Homo sapiens: one gene and its partners. The protein of the gene in region 4 interacts with the protein of the main gene of each other region in a pairwise test. Each region holds a gene or a part of one and is shown on either strand. Other genes may lie near its edges.

Region 1 (3,669 bases), on a different chromosome or scaffold from region 4:
TGATGATTGACAATAAAGTCCTAGAAATCTACAAGGCACAGATGACATCCCAGGAAAGTAGAACTTCTGAGCCTCTAGAGAAAACCCCATACCTGTGCTCAGTGTCCAAAGCAGACATTTGGAGACAAGTGTGTGAGGTGAAGTGAGGGTTGGGGATGGGGATGGAGGCATTGGGATGTAGAGTCTAACACCAGAGATTCGGGGATGGCTATGCCACCAACTAGGTGTGTGACCCAAGCAGGTTCTCCCTGATCTTGCATCAATAATTTGAAGGACTCAGGCCACCAAAAGTTCTCAAATATCCCTTTCTACTCTTATTTAGAAAGACTGTATTTCTAGAAGGCTTGGGAAAACTTCCTGCAGGAAGGGAAGGAAAGCCAACCTTCAGGAAGAACCCTGGGCTCTTGCAAAACAAATGTTACCTAGCTTGTTTTAGTAATGAAAAGGTATCCTTTTCTCACTCAATGAGTTCACCCAGCTCCCACCGTTGGTTTTGCATTGACAGGCCTGTCATGGGTACGTTACCAAGGCAACAAGTTTTTCCCACAGGCATGACAATCTTCTGGGAACTTCTGACCCATTCGAGGAAAATAAAATTCTAGCAGAAATGGTAATTTATTAGATACAATGATTTCTTGCCAACTTGCTTTTGCCGACTGCAGTTGAGTTAATGATATTTCAGTTTTATAAGCCAAAACATTCAAAGCAGGAATCTGTTTTCATATGTATTGCTTGTTGAGTCCATTTAAAAGTTTAAATAAAAGTCTAATTTTGGTTCTTCTCTCGAGCTCTATTATACTGTAAGGTAGCGAAAGGTGCTGGCCCTGGATCCAAGCTCAGGACTGACCTCAGCTTCCTGTACTAATTAGCTGGATGATTTTGGATAAGTTACCTAGCTTCTCAGTTTTCTCATCTGTAAAATGGGAAAAATAGCACAGACCATCTTAAAGGAAGGCTGTTATACATGAACTGTGCTTATCATAGAGCCTGGTTTTTCTAGGGAGCCTCACACCATGAATTTAGTTTGAAGTGATCCTCAAATGTGATAACATCCCCAGTGCCCAATAGAATGAACACTTATATCTTCTCTGAAGACATTCACCTTCATCCTAGGCCTCAAAGAATCTCATAAGTACATTTTCAAGGAGTCTGAGCACCATGCAATAAAAGATAACCAGGTATAGTACATAAAGAAATTAGGTACATATAAGCAAGAATCAGCAGGAGAACAAAAGAAACAGATCACAAAGACTTTGGATACTAAAATCATCAAAATTGTAAAATTTCAAAATGAATTTTTGTTGTTGTTGTTGTTGTTTTGTTTTTTTGAGACTGAGTCTCGCTCTGTTGCCCAGGCTGGAATGTAGTGGCCCAATCTCGGCTCACTGCAACCTCCACCTCCCAGGTTCAAGTAATTCTCCTGCCTCAACCTCCTGAGTATCGGGACTACAGGCACACACCACCATACCCAGCTAATTTTTGTATTTTCAGTAGAGATGGGGTTTCACCATGTTGGCCAGGCTGGTCTCGAACTCCTGACCTCAAGTGATCTGCCTGCCTCAGCCTCCCAAAGTGCTGGGATAACAGACGTGAGCCACTGCGCCTGGCCCTTACAATGACTATGTTTTTTAAAATAAGACAAACTTGAAGTTTTTATGGGAATCCAAAGTTATTTAATTACCAATTTGGTAAGAAACCAAATGTAAGTTAAATTTGAAAAATAAAATCACCAATTTTCAAAATCTTCAACGATCAGGTTTAACAGAAAATTAGACGCAACTGAAGGAGACTGAATAAGCTAGAAGATGTATCATAATAAATTACTTAGAATGCAGTGTAGAAAGACAAGAAGATGGTAAAGTTGGTAGAGAGGTGAAGAGACATGGTACATGGAGTGAGCAGGCCAAACGTTGTGCTGGCATTCCAGAAGGAAAAGGCAGAAATAATCAAGTAGAGGCAACATTTCAAGAGATACTGGTTGAGAATTTTTCAAAACTGATGGAAGTAATCAAGCCACAGATTCAGGATGTGCTAAAAAGGCCAAGCAAGATAAATTTACATAAATGAATGAACTGGAAAACAAACATACAATATAGACGATGGTATATTTTTCCAAAGATGGCCACAGCATTTCGTCTCATCCTGTATGCCCTTTTGCAGTGTGACTTTTGCCATTCTTCCCATCAAGAGGCAACGTCTATTTCCTTCACCTTGAATCCAGGCTACTACAGAAACTTGCATTGACTCATAGAAGCAGCAGAAATGACTTTGGGGACCGGACATTAGAAGGCTTTGTGGCTTCTATTTGTGCTCTTTTGGGACCTTGGGTCCCCATGTAAAGAAGTCCAGACTGCGCATACAGAAACAAAGGCCAAGGAGGGGAACACGAAGACACCCAGGTCCCAGTACCAAGTCCCCAGACATCTCATTTGGGACCCACCAAGTCAATCCCAGATGATACTATGTGGAACAGGGATGAGATGTTTCTGCTGAAGTCTTCCCAAGCTGCAGGTTCACAGAACTGTGAGTAAATGAAGTGGTTGCTACTGTAAGTCACTGAGATTTGGGGGTAGTTTGCTATGCCTCAATAGAGAACGGTGACATAGAAGATCAATAAAAGCCAGATATGGTGGCTCATGCCTGTAATCCCAACACTTTGAGAGGCTGTTGGATGATAGCTTGAGCCTAGGAGTTCAAGACCAGCCTGGGAAAGATAGTGAGACTCCCTCCCTACAAATTTTTTTTTTTTAATTAACAGGTGTGGTAGTATGCACCTGTGGTCCCAGCTACTTGGGAGCCTGGAGAGAGAGCAACTCTTGAGGCCCAGAGGTCGAGGCAGCAGTGAGCTGTGATCAGGCCACTGCACTCCAACCTGGACAGCAGAGTTAGACCTTTCTCAAAAAATAAAAAATAAAAATAAAAAATTGGTTTGAAAAAAATAATAAAGTAGACAAACCTCTGGTAAGATAAATCATAAATAATCAGTACCAGAAACAAAAAGGACATGACTACAGAAGCTACAGGTATTGAAGGGATAACAGAAAACCATACACAAATTTTATGCCAAACCACTTGCAAATTTACTCGAAATGGACACATTCCTAGAAAAAAAAACTTTCCAAAGTGGATTTAAGAAAAATAAAATATGACTAATTCTATAAGTGCTAAAGAAATTGAACCAGTAGTCAGAAATCTACCAAAAAATAATATTCCAGGCCCAGATGGCTTCATTGGCAAGTTCTACCAAACATTAAAAGGAAAAAAAATCCATTATTATTACAAACTATTCCAGAAAACAGAAAAATAGGAACACTCCCAAATTCATTTTATGAGACTGTAAAACATTGGTACCCAAATCCAGCAAGGGCAGAGAGAAAAAAGAAACTTATAACTCACTCTCATTCATGGGCATATAAGAAAAATAACCTGAAACAATTGTTAGCAAACTAAGCCTAGCAATATAAGGAAAGAGATACACCATGATCAACTTGATTTTACGCCAGCAATGGGTATACAATCCCAATGGATCATTCAGTATTAGCAAGTCTATTAATATAACTCAACATAATAGATCTAAGGGTAAATAATCATATGATTATTTCTATACATGCTGAAAAGGCCTTTAACAAAATTTAATATGAATTTCTGATGAATTAAAACTCAAGGATG
Region 2 (3,669 bases), about 83 Mb from region 4:
ACTCCTGGCCTCAAGTGATCTGCCTGCCTTGGCCTCCCAAAGTGCTGGGATTACAGGCATGAGCCACTGTGCCCGGCCACTGTGTAGAATGTTAAATTAGTTCCTCAGTCACACTGACCACCTCTCAAGGGCTCAGTCGTCACACATGGCCAGTGGCTACTGTACTGGATGGCACAGACAGGACCCTTCTGACACACCGAAATCTCTATAGACAGTGCCTCTCCACCTCCTTCCAGCCCCATTTGAAGGAGTAGAGGAAGCCTCTTACTCATTCCTGCTGCTTCAGTTTCAGTTGTGGAACTCCTTGAGATTAGAAAGAAGTCCTGCCACCTGCTGTTTCAGTTCATTTTTCAGGGCCTTGCGTGGATGGGGCACATGGGCAGTGCTGACCAGCTGCCTTTCTTCCTGTGGCAGTGCTGCTGGCTGCACACTGCTGGCCTTTTGCAGCCAACAGAGGAGGCACATCCCCTAATGCTTGACCACGGCGTGAGCTGACCGCAGTCAGAAAATCCTGCCATCGGGGTGGCCAAGAAATCGGGGTTTCTTCCCAGCCGGCCAGCCTCTTTCCTGGCCACCACAGCTTCAGTGTTTGGGGTTCCCGGCATGGCTTCCTTCTGTCACTGCACCGACACCTCTGCACACATGCCTCATGGCCATCACTGAGCTGAGAGGGGCAGGCTGTGCTCCCCAAGGGGACTACGCTCCCTTAGAGGTGTGGAATGTTGAATAAGAGGAAGCCTGAGATGGGTCCCTGACGCTGGGTTTGTAGTTGCCTAGGGATGTCTCTTGTCCAAGTGCTATTGCAGAGCTCAATTCTAAGACCCAATTTCATTCAACTCACCTTTCCTGGAATTAGGAAATAGATCATCTCAGAGCACCTGTTGATAATTTCTTTTTTTTTTCTTTTTTTTTTTTTCTTCCCTGAGATGGAGTCTCGCTCTTTTGCCCAGGCTGGAGTGCAGTGGCACGATCTCGGCTCACTGCAACCTGTACTTCCCGAGTTCAAGCGATTCTCCTGCCTCAGCCTCCCAAGTACCTGGGATTACAAGCGTGCTGCCACCATGCCTGGCTAATTTTTGTATTTTTAGTAGAGATGGGGTTTCACCATGTTGGTTAGGCTGGTCTCGAACTCCTGGCCTCAGGTGATCCACCCACCTCGGCCTCCCAAAGTGCTGGAATTACAGGTGTGAGCCATTGCAGCTGGCCAGATAATTTCAAAAAATCTAGCAAATGCAGTTCTGTGAACTTCTGAAATTAGTCCAGCGCTGACTCAGGGCTCTTCTGGCCCAGGGTCTATCCCAGGGTCTATCAGGAGGACCAAGGAATAGAGGGTAAGAATGTGATGGGGAAACGATTGTGGTGACAGGGAGAGACCATGGAGTAGAGCAGGCTGGGAGCTGGCTGCAGGGAACACTGCCACACGGCTGGGCAGAGGGAGGGAGGCTGCAGACAGCCCGGGGGTGGGCAGCCGGCTGGGGTGCCTGAGATGAGGGGTGTGGGGCCCTGCGGGGATTTTTCCTTCTGGCCTTCTGGGAGCTGGTGGGGAGATCACTGTCTGTGTGCAGGGCTCAGAGCTGCTTTCTGATGACGAGGTGCCCCTCGGGATAGGGGGACAGTTCTTAAAACACCAGGCAGAGGCTCAGCCAGAGGATCTGTCCCTGGAGGAAGAGGCTCGATTCTCCAGCCAGCAGCCCCCAGCCCAGCTGAGCCACAGGCCACAGAGGGGCCCGCTGTTGTGGCCAGAGAGAGGTGAGTAGCACCCCTTTGGAGGAATGAGAAGTGGTGCAGGGGAGGGAGGTGAAGGTGACTGGGGTGTGGACTGTGGCCAGGGCAGAGGCCTGCCTGGATGCAGGGTGCACAGGCTCTCCAGCAAGGAGTGGATCTTGGGTGGGCAGCCGCCGGGCTGTTGGGGCCTTGGTGTGCAGGGGACGGCAGGGGCAGTACTGGGTGAGCTGTGTGACTGGTGGTGACTCTGCTCCTTCCCAGGCCCTCCAGCTCCCCGGCATCAGGAGATGGCGTCAGCCTCGCCCTTCCTTTCGGCCTGGTCCCAGGTGAGTGGGATGCTCCTGGTCTGCAGCATCCTGGGGTCTGGCCCGACCTCCTGTGTGTCACACTTCCTTGTTAAGGGGACACCTCTCCTGGGGGCCAAGGTTTTGGATGTCAGAGGAGCTCTTCCCTGGAGTTTTCTCCCTTTGCCCCAACCCTGGAGTCACTTCCCCTGGCCTCCTGGGAAGTCTTTTCTTCTCTCCAGAGGCCATTTAAGTACTCGGCTGTGCCCGGAAGATTCTGCGGTCCACCAGTGAGACAGGGTGGTGACTCCTACTCTGCTGGGCACAGGAATCTCTTGGGACTCTGGGGGAAAACACAGCTTCCTCCCACACCGCTGGGCTGGAATGGGAGTCTCCTTTGTTTGCTTGCTGGTTTTTTTGGGGTTTTTGTTTGTTTGTTTGTTTGTTTGTTTGTTTTGAGCCAAAGTCTGGCTCTGTGCTCACGCTGGAGTGCAGTAGTGTGATTACAGCTCACTGCAGCCTTGACCTCCCAGGCTCAAGGGATCCTCCTGCCTCAGCCTCCTCAGTTAGTTGGGACTACAGGCATGCACCACCACACCCGGCTAGTTGTTTTTTTTTTGTTTTTTTTTTAATGGGACACAGTCTCGCTGTGCTGCCTAGGCTGGTCTTGAACTCCTGGGCTCAAGTGATCCTCTTGCCTAAGTCTCCCAAAGCACTGGGATTACAGGCATAAGCCACCATGCCTGGCCTGTTTTATTTTTATTTATTTATTTATAATTTTTATATGTGTGTGTGTGTGTGTGTGTGTGTGTGTGTGTGTGTGTGTGTGTGTGTATGTATGTGTATTTGTTTTGTTTTGTTTTTGTTTTTTTGAGACAGAGTTTTGCTCTTGTTGCCCAGGCTGGAGTGCAATGGTGCGATCTCGGCTCACTGCAACCTCCGGCTCCCGGGTTCAAGCGATTTTCCTGCGTCAGCCTCCTGAGTAGCTGGGATTACAGGCACCCACCACCATGCCTGGCTAATTTTTTTTGTATTTTTAGTACAGATGGGGTTTCACCATGTTGGCCAGGCTGGTCTGGAGCTCCTGACCTCAGATGATCCACCTGCCTTGGCCTCCCAATGTGCTGGGATTACGGGTGTGAGCCACCGCGCCCGGCCGAACATTTCCTTTAGACCCTCCCCGAAAACCCCCTAGACTCATTACCAGAGTCTCTACCTGTTTTTCCCTCAGCCTCTGGCAACCACAAAGCTCCTTCTTGTCTCTGTGAATTTGCCTGTTCTGGAAAGAGTTTGCTTGTTTTTTTAATCATGCTTCCGGGTCAATCTGGTGCTACATCTGGGAGCCACTGGCCCAGAGGCATCCTGAAGTCCCCCGTCTGCCGCAATGGGGTCCTGGGGCTGGCTAGCCACGGAGCCAGGGGATGCTCTTGTCTCCCTGTGGAGCATGGGCCTCGGTGGCTGAGTGTGCAGTGGGTCCACCACTCCTCGTGGCGAATCTGTCCCTTCTCCGGTGGTGTCCCAGCTCTGCAGCAGTGGCACATGGGAGCAGTGGGCGGAGACACCAGGACTCACCACTGCAACGAGAGTGGAGAAGACCAGCTGCACCACCAGGCTTGGCGCCAGCCTCGAGGGGCAGTGGCGGTGCAGCTCCCTGGGCCAG
Region 3 (4,463 bases), on a different chromosome or scaffold from region 4:
CGTCTATATTCTTATCCTCAGTTTAAAATATACTTGAAACACTGCCATCCTAAATTGGCTGCCTCTCAATCCTGCTGTTTCCCTGGCTATTTCCTTAAATGTCTCCTTTCCTTCCCAGAAAACTTCCTGAAAGAAAAGCTGGCACTTGCTGCTTTCAGTTCAGACTGGCCATTCTCTCACACCAGATTTCTAGTTTCTGTGCCCACCCCACCCTCAGTCCCACTGACGTTGCTCTACTAGGGTTGCTAAAGACTCCAGGTCATCAAATCCAAGAGTTACTTTTCAATCTTCTTCTGTTTGGCTGTTCACCTTTGTTTTGGTGAAAGAAAGAATGCATGTCTACACAGAGCATTTACAGGGGAGCAGCGTCATGTGAATTCTAATAATGGAAGATTTCTCCAAGGAGAAATCAACTCTTGGGCACAGAATCAGGGATAAGAAGTTCAACCTCACCTATCCACTTGCCAGCTGGACACTAGGACTTGACCTAATTAAGGGAGTTGACAGTTTTTTTGGTGTTTTGTTTTGTCTTTACAAGCAGATGTTATCACCCCATTATACCAAGAAGGAAATTGAGGCTCAGAAAAAACTTGTAGATTGCCCCAAGTTACACAGTGGGTTATGGTCAGAGCTCCCTCCATCACATAGTGATAATAGCTATGACTTAATAACTACTGTATATCAGGCATGTGCTAAGAGCTTTACAAGGCAATACCTCATATAATCCTCTCCTAAAGTACAGACTAGTTTATACACCTTATTACAACTCCACTTGAATGTGTAATGGACATCTCAAAGGTGACACATTCAGAAATGAAATCAGGATCTTTTCCCCAAAACCTGCTCTACCTACAGCTTTTGCTATCTCAATTGATGGTGACTTCATCCTACTAATCGCTCAGTACAAAAAAAAAAAAAAAAAATTGCAGTCCTCCTTGACTCCTCTCTTTCACACCTCATATACAATTTCTCAGGAAACCCTATTGAAACTACCTTCAAAATATATCCATAATCTTCCCACTTCTCAGAACTTCTACTGCTACCAGCCTGGTCCCAGCCACCATCATCTCTCACTTAGATTACCTAGTGGCCTCCCAGCAGGTCTCCCTGCTTTTCCCTCTCTCGCCTCCCTCTCCTCACCTCCCCTCACCCTCCAGTCTCTTCTCAAAGCAGCAGGAGAAATCCAGCTAAGTTCTCCTTCTCGCCCATTGCAGCCTCGAGCTTCTGGGCTCAAACGATCCTTCCGCCTCGGTCTCCCGAAGTGCTGAGATTACAGGCGTGAGCCACCGCGCCTGGCCTTAAAATCCTTTTTAAAGGCACTTTGACATCCATTATCTCATTTAAGTCTAAAACACGAATTTCGACCTCCGCGCTGCTTTCTGGTTCCACCTGGCGGCAGCTGCACAAAGTGTTTCTCTTCGAACGCCGTCCCAAGTTTTACCCGGAACTACTTAGCCCAGGGTTTCCTGAGTGCTCCTCGGGCCAAAAGCAGAGCGCACAAATTCCAGAAGAAATTACCAACGGCGGGACTATTTCAGTGCTCCGAGAAGTATCACCAGTAACCAATCAGCAAAAAGCTCTAGCTCACGTGGTGTATATTCAGCCTATCAAGCTCCTGATATTCATGAATGCTGTCATTTCCGCTTCCGCCTCCTTCTTTCTCGACAAGATGGCCACACCGGCGGTACCAGTAAGTGCTCCTCCGGCCACGCCAACCCCAGTCCCGGCGGCGGCCCCAGCCTCAGTTCCAGCGCCAACGCCAGCACCGGCTGCGGCTCCGGTTCCCGCTGCGGCTCCAGCCTCATCCTCAGACCCTGCGGCAGCAGCGGCTGCAACTGCGGCTCCTGGCCAGACCCCGGCCTCAGCGCAAGCTCCAGCGCAGACCCCAGCGCCCGCTCTGCCTGGTCCTGCTCTTCCAGGGCCCTTCCCCGGCGGCCGCGTGGTCAGGCTGCACCCAGTCATTTTGGCCTCCATTGTGGACAGCTACGAGAGACGCAACGAGGGTGCTGCCCGAGTTATCGGGACCCTGTTGGGTGAGTGGTCAGAGAAAGTTAACATTCTTTTCTTCCTCCCACTTCTCATTTATCTCACTCCCCTAACTCATTAATTCTTTAATTCCTGGTGTCCTACCGTCCTTTCCTCCCATCCCCAATGACCTCTTAATCTATATCTGCATCCTACCTTTTGCTGTGACTTATCTTCTCAAGCACTTGCATCTCTCCTCTCTCTCCTGCCGGATTGCTGTCACTTTAAGCGACATAAAATACACAAGGAGTAGTTGTGTCATTTACTGAATATTTTATGCCAGTGGTTTACATTTATGCCAGTGGTTTACATTTTACATAAACAGCAGTTTATGGCAAGTATGATGGGCTGCATCTACCAAAAATGAGTTCACACGCCGAGTGGGAAGTCAGGAACCCTTGACTCCCTATACCAGTGACCACATATTTCTCCCTTATCCACTGACTAAATGTCATCGTTTTCCAGGTATTGACAAAGTTTTCTAACCAGTTGTCAAAGGAGTGGGGACGTTTGTAAAAAAACATTCCTCCCAACAAGTAAACCGGTTTGGTTGGAACCCGCTTGGGATTTTATAGTGTTCTGCTGTCCTAAACGTCTGAGCCTGATCTGTGTCCCTCAGTGTCCCCTAATATTAGTACCTAATGTGAGAAACCCTGTTCCCCCATTTTGCATTTGGACGCAAACAGTTGTATTATCTGTTTATATTTCTGCCCTTAACCTTCAGGTCGAAAAATGACCCATTCTCTGCCTGTGTTCCAAATTTGGGGAATAGATATTTTATGTTAAAGTAGTTTGTAAAATGGAAAAGCACTAAAGAGGGATTGTTGATAATAAATTCCTTTCTGGAGACTATGCTGGTCCCATGAAATTCGTTTCCATTCCATCTTAGTGCCAGATTTTAAATAGCTTTGTGAATCCACTTTATTTACAAGCATTCTTTCTCTTTCATACTCTTGAACATCTACTAGTTCTTACACCATAGAAGACAGTTGGTATATTGCAAAGCAGACAAGATTTGTAAGCAGACCTCACAAAACATTTGCCATGTGACTTGGGGCAGATTACCTAAAATCTGTTCTGTCAGGAGCTACTTTAGACTTAGTCTTTGTGAGAGCTAAATTAAAAACTTCTGACTATGCTGGCACACATTAGGTACAGCTGTTAGTTGCCATTCACATCAGGCCTGGACCACCCCAATGCATACAGACACACATTTTCTCTCCTTTATCTATCTTTGACGGTATAGCATTTTACAGAAACTTAAATTCATATCTTCTGAACATTGCTTGTCTTTTCTCAGACCAAGCTTTTGCGTTCTCTTTGCCACAAGTGCTTTTCCTGCTGTCCTTCATTTGTTTAAGCTCTACCTACCTTCCACGTTCCCAGCAACAGCATTAAGTGCCGGTCCTCCATCCCATACCCGGACCCTCACTCCATTCTTAACCTTCCACAGCATGATGGTGTTCTGTAACTGTGCCCTGCTCTGAGCTTCTGTAATAAATTATTTTTGCATCACTGACTTGACACTCAGCAAATACTTACTCTTTTGGCTGCACTTTCTAATTTTCCAAGCTCGCTAAAGCTATTTAAAGAAACTAATTCATTACCCATGATTTATGCTTTAGCGCCCCAAATATTCCAGTGATCCAGTCAGACCAGGTATAATCTAATCTACATCCTCAGATCCTCTTCCAGACTGGAATCATGGTACAGTGCTATAGGTGTTATAGAGGCAATACTTACAGAAGAATAAAGAATAGATTCTGCTTGCTATGAACTTATTTCCTTAGATATACACAAAACATTTCATTTGTCTAAATGAAGTCATTGGTGCTTTTTTTGTACCATAAAACTGTTAAGGTATTTAGAATTCAAAGTGTAATAAAGTGAGCTCTCCTGTAACCTTAAACTCAAGATAGAAGTGTACTCTTAAATGCAAATAATTAGAATGTAATATGATAAATGTTCCAATAGAAGGGTGTCATGGTGGCATGGAAATGCAGAAGACTTAACTATTTCAGAAGGTTGGGGAAAAGTTCACAAAAAAGATGACGTTTGAGCTGGGCATTAAAGCAACTACAAGAAGTATAAAAAAGCCTGGTAAATCCACTGTCTGAAACATTCAGTATTACAGGAATGTAGGTGACAGGAGGTAGAGCAGGAAATGAAGCTAGCAGAGGGCAGAGCCCTAAGAAGTATTAAATAATTACAAATGTAAAGTGCTGTGAAGGGAATTACCTGGATCCCTGAGAAGACAAAATGAAAGTCTAACCTCATTTGAAGCTCTTTGGGGAAGCTCCTGAGCATTTCAGCTAACACTGAATAGGAATTAAAAATCACTCTGGAATGAGTGAGTTGAGAGATAGGAAATAAAGTTGACAGGACATGGTGTGATCAGAAGTGAGGGATTAGAAGAAAATATCAGGGATGACTTCTAC
Region 4 (3,669 bases):
GTGGACACAGCAAGGGCCTCCACTCAGCCAGAGAGAAAGCAAGCTGCCCTGAGCCCAGCTTTCCGTGGCATCGTGGCCTCAGGCAGGTGTATTGTGAGTCTTGGGCCCCATGACAACTTGGTTGGGCCGGGCCAGCCTGCAGGGGGCAGAGAACAGCCAAGGGCCCAGCCCTGCCCACTGATGCCACCCCTGGTGCAAAGTTCCCCCACCCCAGCGAGGAGGAAGGGCCGGATGCTAGTCAGCCTGTAGTGGGGTAGCAGGACAGAGTGGGGTGGTCAGTGGCACCTCTTCTGCCACAGTCCAGCCCGTGCTCTGGGCCGGGAAGCAGGTACGGACGCTGTGGGCGAGGGCGTGGCTGCCCGCAGGAGGGAAGCTTCTGTCTCCCCAGCCATCCTCCAACCCTGGACCCCACCATCAGGTCATATCCATCATTTCACCAAGAGGGAAACAGCCAGGGCCAGAGTTCCTTCACCAGTAGAGCGGTAGGGAGAACCTGTGCTTCCATCCTAAGGGACTTTACCCTGAATTGCCAGGGCCCTACACGGGCCAGAATCCCAGGCCCATCTGTGGCCAGTGGGACCCTATGTGGGCTAGAATCCCAGGCCCATCTGTGGCCAGTGGGACCCAGGGCCTCTGGCGTGTGAGCTCTGCAGCATGTTGGGAATGGTGGAGGGGGATGGCCAGAAGACAGCACCCCAGACCCTGCTGGTGGCCCAGGGGAGACACTGCAGAGAGCTGTACCCCTGTGAGGGGGTGGCACTGAAGGCACTCAGCCCAGCCTGGCACCCGACTGCCCTGACACCTGTCCCCTGACATGGATGCCGGCTGGCACGGGCCCCTCCTGCTTCCCACCAACAGGGCCTGGAACAGTGCTTAGGATTGACCGCGCCTCTACACACCATCTCCCCTCACAGACCTGGCAGAAAACACAGCTCCAAAGCTGTGGGGAGGGAGACGGGGAGGGAGACAGGGAGGGAAACCTTGTTTGCACCAGCACCAGGTACCCCAGGGTGGCCACTTCCAAGGAGCTCAGCTGGCATCCTCCAGGGTGGGTGGGACATGATGCTGCAGCTGACGGGACCTCCAGATTAGCCCCAGCTGGAGACCGGGCAGGACCAGGGCAGCATGTAGCACCCTGCGTGTCGCTAACTCATCCCAGAGGCCAGCTTGGCACTTGTCCCCAGCTTGTGCATTGACCCCCAGGGAGGTTCATTTAAAAGCACCCAAAAGTGTCAGTGCATTAAGCAGGCTAAAAATAGAACCCGTCCCTACACCTCCCACCCTGCCCACTGCTTGGCTGTTCCTAAAATAACCGCGCGCGCACAGCCACGCACACATCTCCGGCTGCGATGGGGAAAATCAAGTTGTAAGTGTGAGCTGGTATTTTGGTCCCAGCAGGAGCATAGGGGCTGTTCTCTGTGGGCTTTGGGGAACGGGGAGGCATCTTAGGAACCCAACAGGACAGACAGACGTCCGCAGTGGTTCCAAGGAGAGGCAGAAACAGGCATTGCCGCCCGGCAGGACGTGCCCCTTCAAAGGGGTGTCACGCGGTGACCCCTCTGGGGGTGGGGCTGGCAGGAGGAGAAAACCACAGCTCCCCTAGGTCAGGGGCAGGGACAGACACCGACCCCTGCCGCAGCGTCGACAATAAACCTACCAATGGTCCCCCCTGCCCGGCCCACACGCCCTGAGCGCCCCCTGCGGACACCCCCCTGCGTCCTCACACCCGAGGGGCAGACTGGCTTGCAGCACTTCTGTTCAGCACCACGCACTGCCTGGCAGCCACGAGCGAGCAGAGCCCTGCTGGGGTGAGGGCCTGGCCGTGCGCAGATCCTATGTAGCCACCGTCCCACAGCCCTTCATTCCCAAAGCCCTTCATTCCTGCAGCACTGGTCAAGGGAGCAGGGTGGGATTTGCAGAGTGAAGGTCCCTTCAAGGGGAGGCCAGCCCTGTGTGAGGCACCAGGACCCCCAGCCTCGCACACCGAGTCTAGCCTGGGACCCCCAGCCTCGCGCCGAGTCTAGCCCAGGGGGACGCTGTTCTTCCCTCCAAGCTGCCTGCCCTGGAGGAACGAATTTGGGGGGGGGGTGCTGGGTGAGGCTGACGGTGAGTTGCACACAGCGGGCCTCACGTGGGAGCCGGCTCCAACCCCAACACCCCCCATGGGTGAGAGAAACCTGGACTGGCAGCTCCCCCCAACCCCAGACCTGACTCCCAGCCCCAGGGCCAGCCTTGCCCCCAGCTGTTTCGCCTCTGGGTTCCTATCCAGGACACAGGACACTCAAGCGGTCATCTCACGGCCCAAGGCTACTGACCAGGGGCACAGACTCTTGGAGCAGCTGGGGTTGAGCACGTTGCGGGGAGCGCAGGGATCCCATGCTGCCTGGAAACCAGGAGTTTCGTGTGCTTTCTGGACAACCTGGGGGCAGCCTCTCACGGAAAGAGGTATGACACCTGCCCCACCTGGCTTCCTAGGGGAGGGTCCCAGCGACCTGAGGGCCACCACTCCCGGCTGTACCCCCACCCTACTCCACCCCTGGAGAGGAACAGGGGAGCAGTGACCTTGCTGGAAACCCTCAGGAAACACCAGGTCAGCAGAGAGGTGGATGTTGCCTCCACTGGGACCAGCCTGGTGGCCGCCCACTCACCGTACTGGACTTGAGCTCATCCCCATTCTCCTCGTCGGACTCTAGAGCGACAGGCAAGGATTTCTGGGGCGGGGAGAAGGTCAAGTCCCAACGCAGCAACCGGGGCTCGGCCCCGCCCAGCCGCAGGCTCGCCAGTTTCTGCACGGCGGGCTCCGCGGAGGAGGCCGGCCTGAAGTTCTCCTTGTTCTGGGCCTTGGACCGCAGTCTCTGCACCCCGAAGCCCCGGTCCTCGGGGCGGTGGTCGTCCCCCAAGCCCCGGCAGGCGCCGCCCTTGCTGTAGCGTCTTTTCTGGGGATGCGTCTCCATCCTCAGCAAGGGTTTCATCTCCATCCGGTAGTTGCTCAGCTTCTCCTCCTGCAGCTCCAGCAGCCTGGAGCCTCCGGGGCTGTGGTTGCTGGCCCGGTGGTGGGAAGTCCACGTGAACACGGGGGGTGACTCCGTCCGCCGCTCCCGCGGCTTGGGGTTCCCGGGCTGCTTGCGGCCCGAACCTCGGGTGCGGAAGTCATCCACGAGCAGGCCGCCGCGCAGGGCACCGCTGCGGACACCCCTGGAGCCCCCGGCCTGCTCCTCGCCCCAGCTGCTGCGGGCGCAGTCCCCGGCCCGGCCCTCCAGGAGCATCTGGATGTCCCCGCCCCGCTCCTCGTCCACCGACACCTGCCTCGAGAAGTGGGCGACCTTGTTCCTGGCGGCGGGCGCGGGCGGCGGGGTGGCCGCGGGGCTGGTGGGGAAGCTCTGCAGGGGGCTGTCGTCGGGGGTCAGGTCGGAGGGAGTGGTGCCCTTGCGGTACAGCTCGGGGCTCTCCTGCTGCAGGGGTGTCCCGGTGGACAGCACCTCGATGTCGTCACAGGAGGTCTGACGCTTCGGCCTCTGGTACTCCAGCCCTGTATGGGGACACAAGACGACGCCAGACGGCGTTACCCAGCACATTCCACAGCGAGGCCGCGGTCCCCGGGCCAGGGCGCCAGAGGGAACCTCAGGGCAGCAGAGGCGCTTCCCACTCACCGAAAGGCTGCAGGCAAGG

Evidence for each region. The genes of interacting proteins can lie anywhere in the genome.
Region 1: the proteins of JPH3 (region 4) and PLB1 interact in binary tests that used the Homo sapiens proteins (3 or more experiments, as listed by UniProt).
Region 2: the proteins of JPH3 (region 4) and ZNF500 interact in binary tests that used the Homo sapiens proteins (3 or more experiments, as listed by UniProt).
Region 3: the proteins of JPH3 (region 4) and EIF3F interact in binary tests that used the Homo sapiens proteins (3 or more experiments, as listed by UniProt).

Annotation. Positions count from the first base shown.
Region 1 is NC_000002.12:28,502,401-28,506,069, reverse strand, and holds part of PLB1 (phospholipase B1, membrane-associated isoform 1 precursor), read right to left. Parts: intron 1-3,669. UniProt on the Homo sapiens protein: Calcium-independent membrane-associated phospholipase that catalyzes complete diacylation of phospholipids by hydrolyzing both sn-1 and sn-2 fatty acyl chains attached to the glycerol backbone (phospholipase B activity).
Region 2 is NC_000016.10:4,760,653-4,764,321, reverse strand, and holds part of ZNF500 (zinc finger protein 500), read left to right. Parts: intron 1-32; exon of another isoform or gene 33-649; coding exon of another isoform or gene 650-712; intron 713-1,565; coding exon 1,566-1,749; intron 1,750-1,986; coding exon 1,987-2,051; intron 2,052-3,669.
Region 3 is NC_000011.10:7,985,684-7,990,146, forward strand, and holds the start of EIF3F (eukaryotic translation initiation factor 3 subunit F), read left to right. Parts: upstream 1-1,653; 5' UTR 1,654-1,669; coding exon 1,670-2,033; intron 2,034-4,463. UniProt on the Homo sapiens protein: Component of the eukaryotic translation initiation factor 3 (eIF-3) complex, which is required for several steps in the initiation of protein synthesis.
Region 4 is NC_000016.10:87,689,506-87,693,174, reverse strand, and holds part of JPH3 (junctophilin-3), read right to left. Parts: intron 3,530-3,669; coding exon 2,649-3,529; intron 1-2,648. UniProt on the Homo sapiens protein: Junctophilins contribute to the formation of junctional membrane complexes (JMCs) which link the plasma membrane with the endoplasmic or sarcoplasmic reticulum in excitable cells.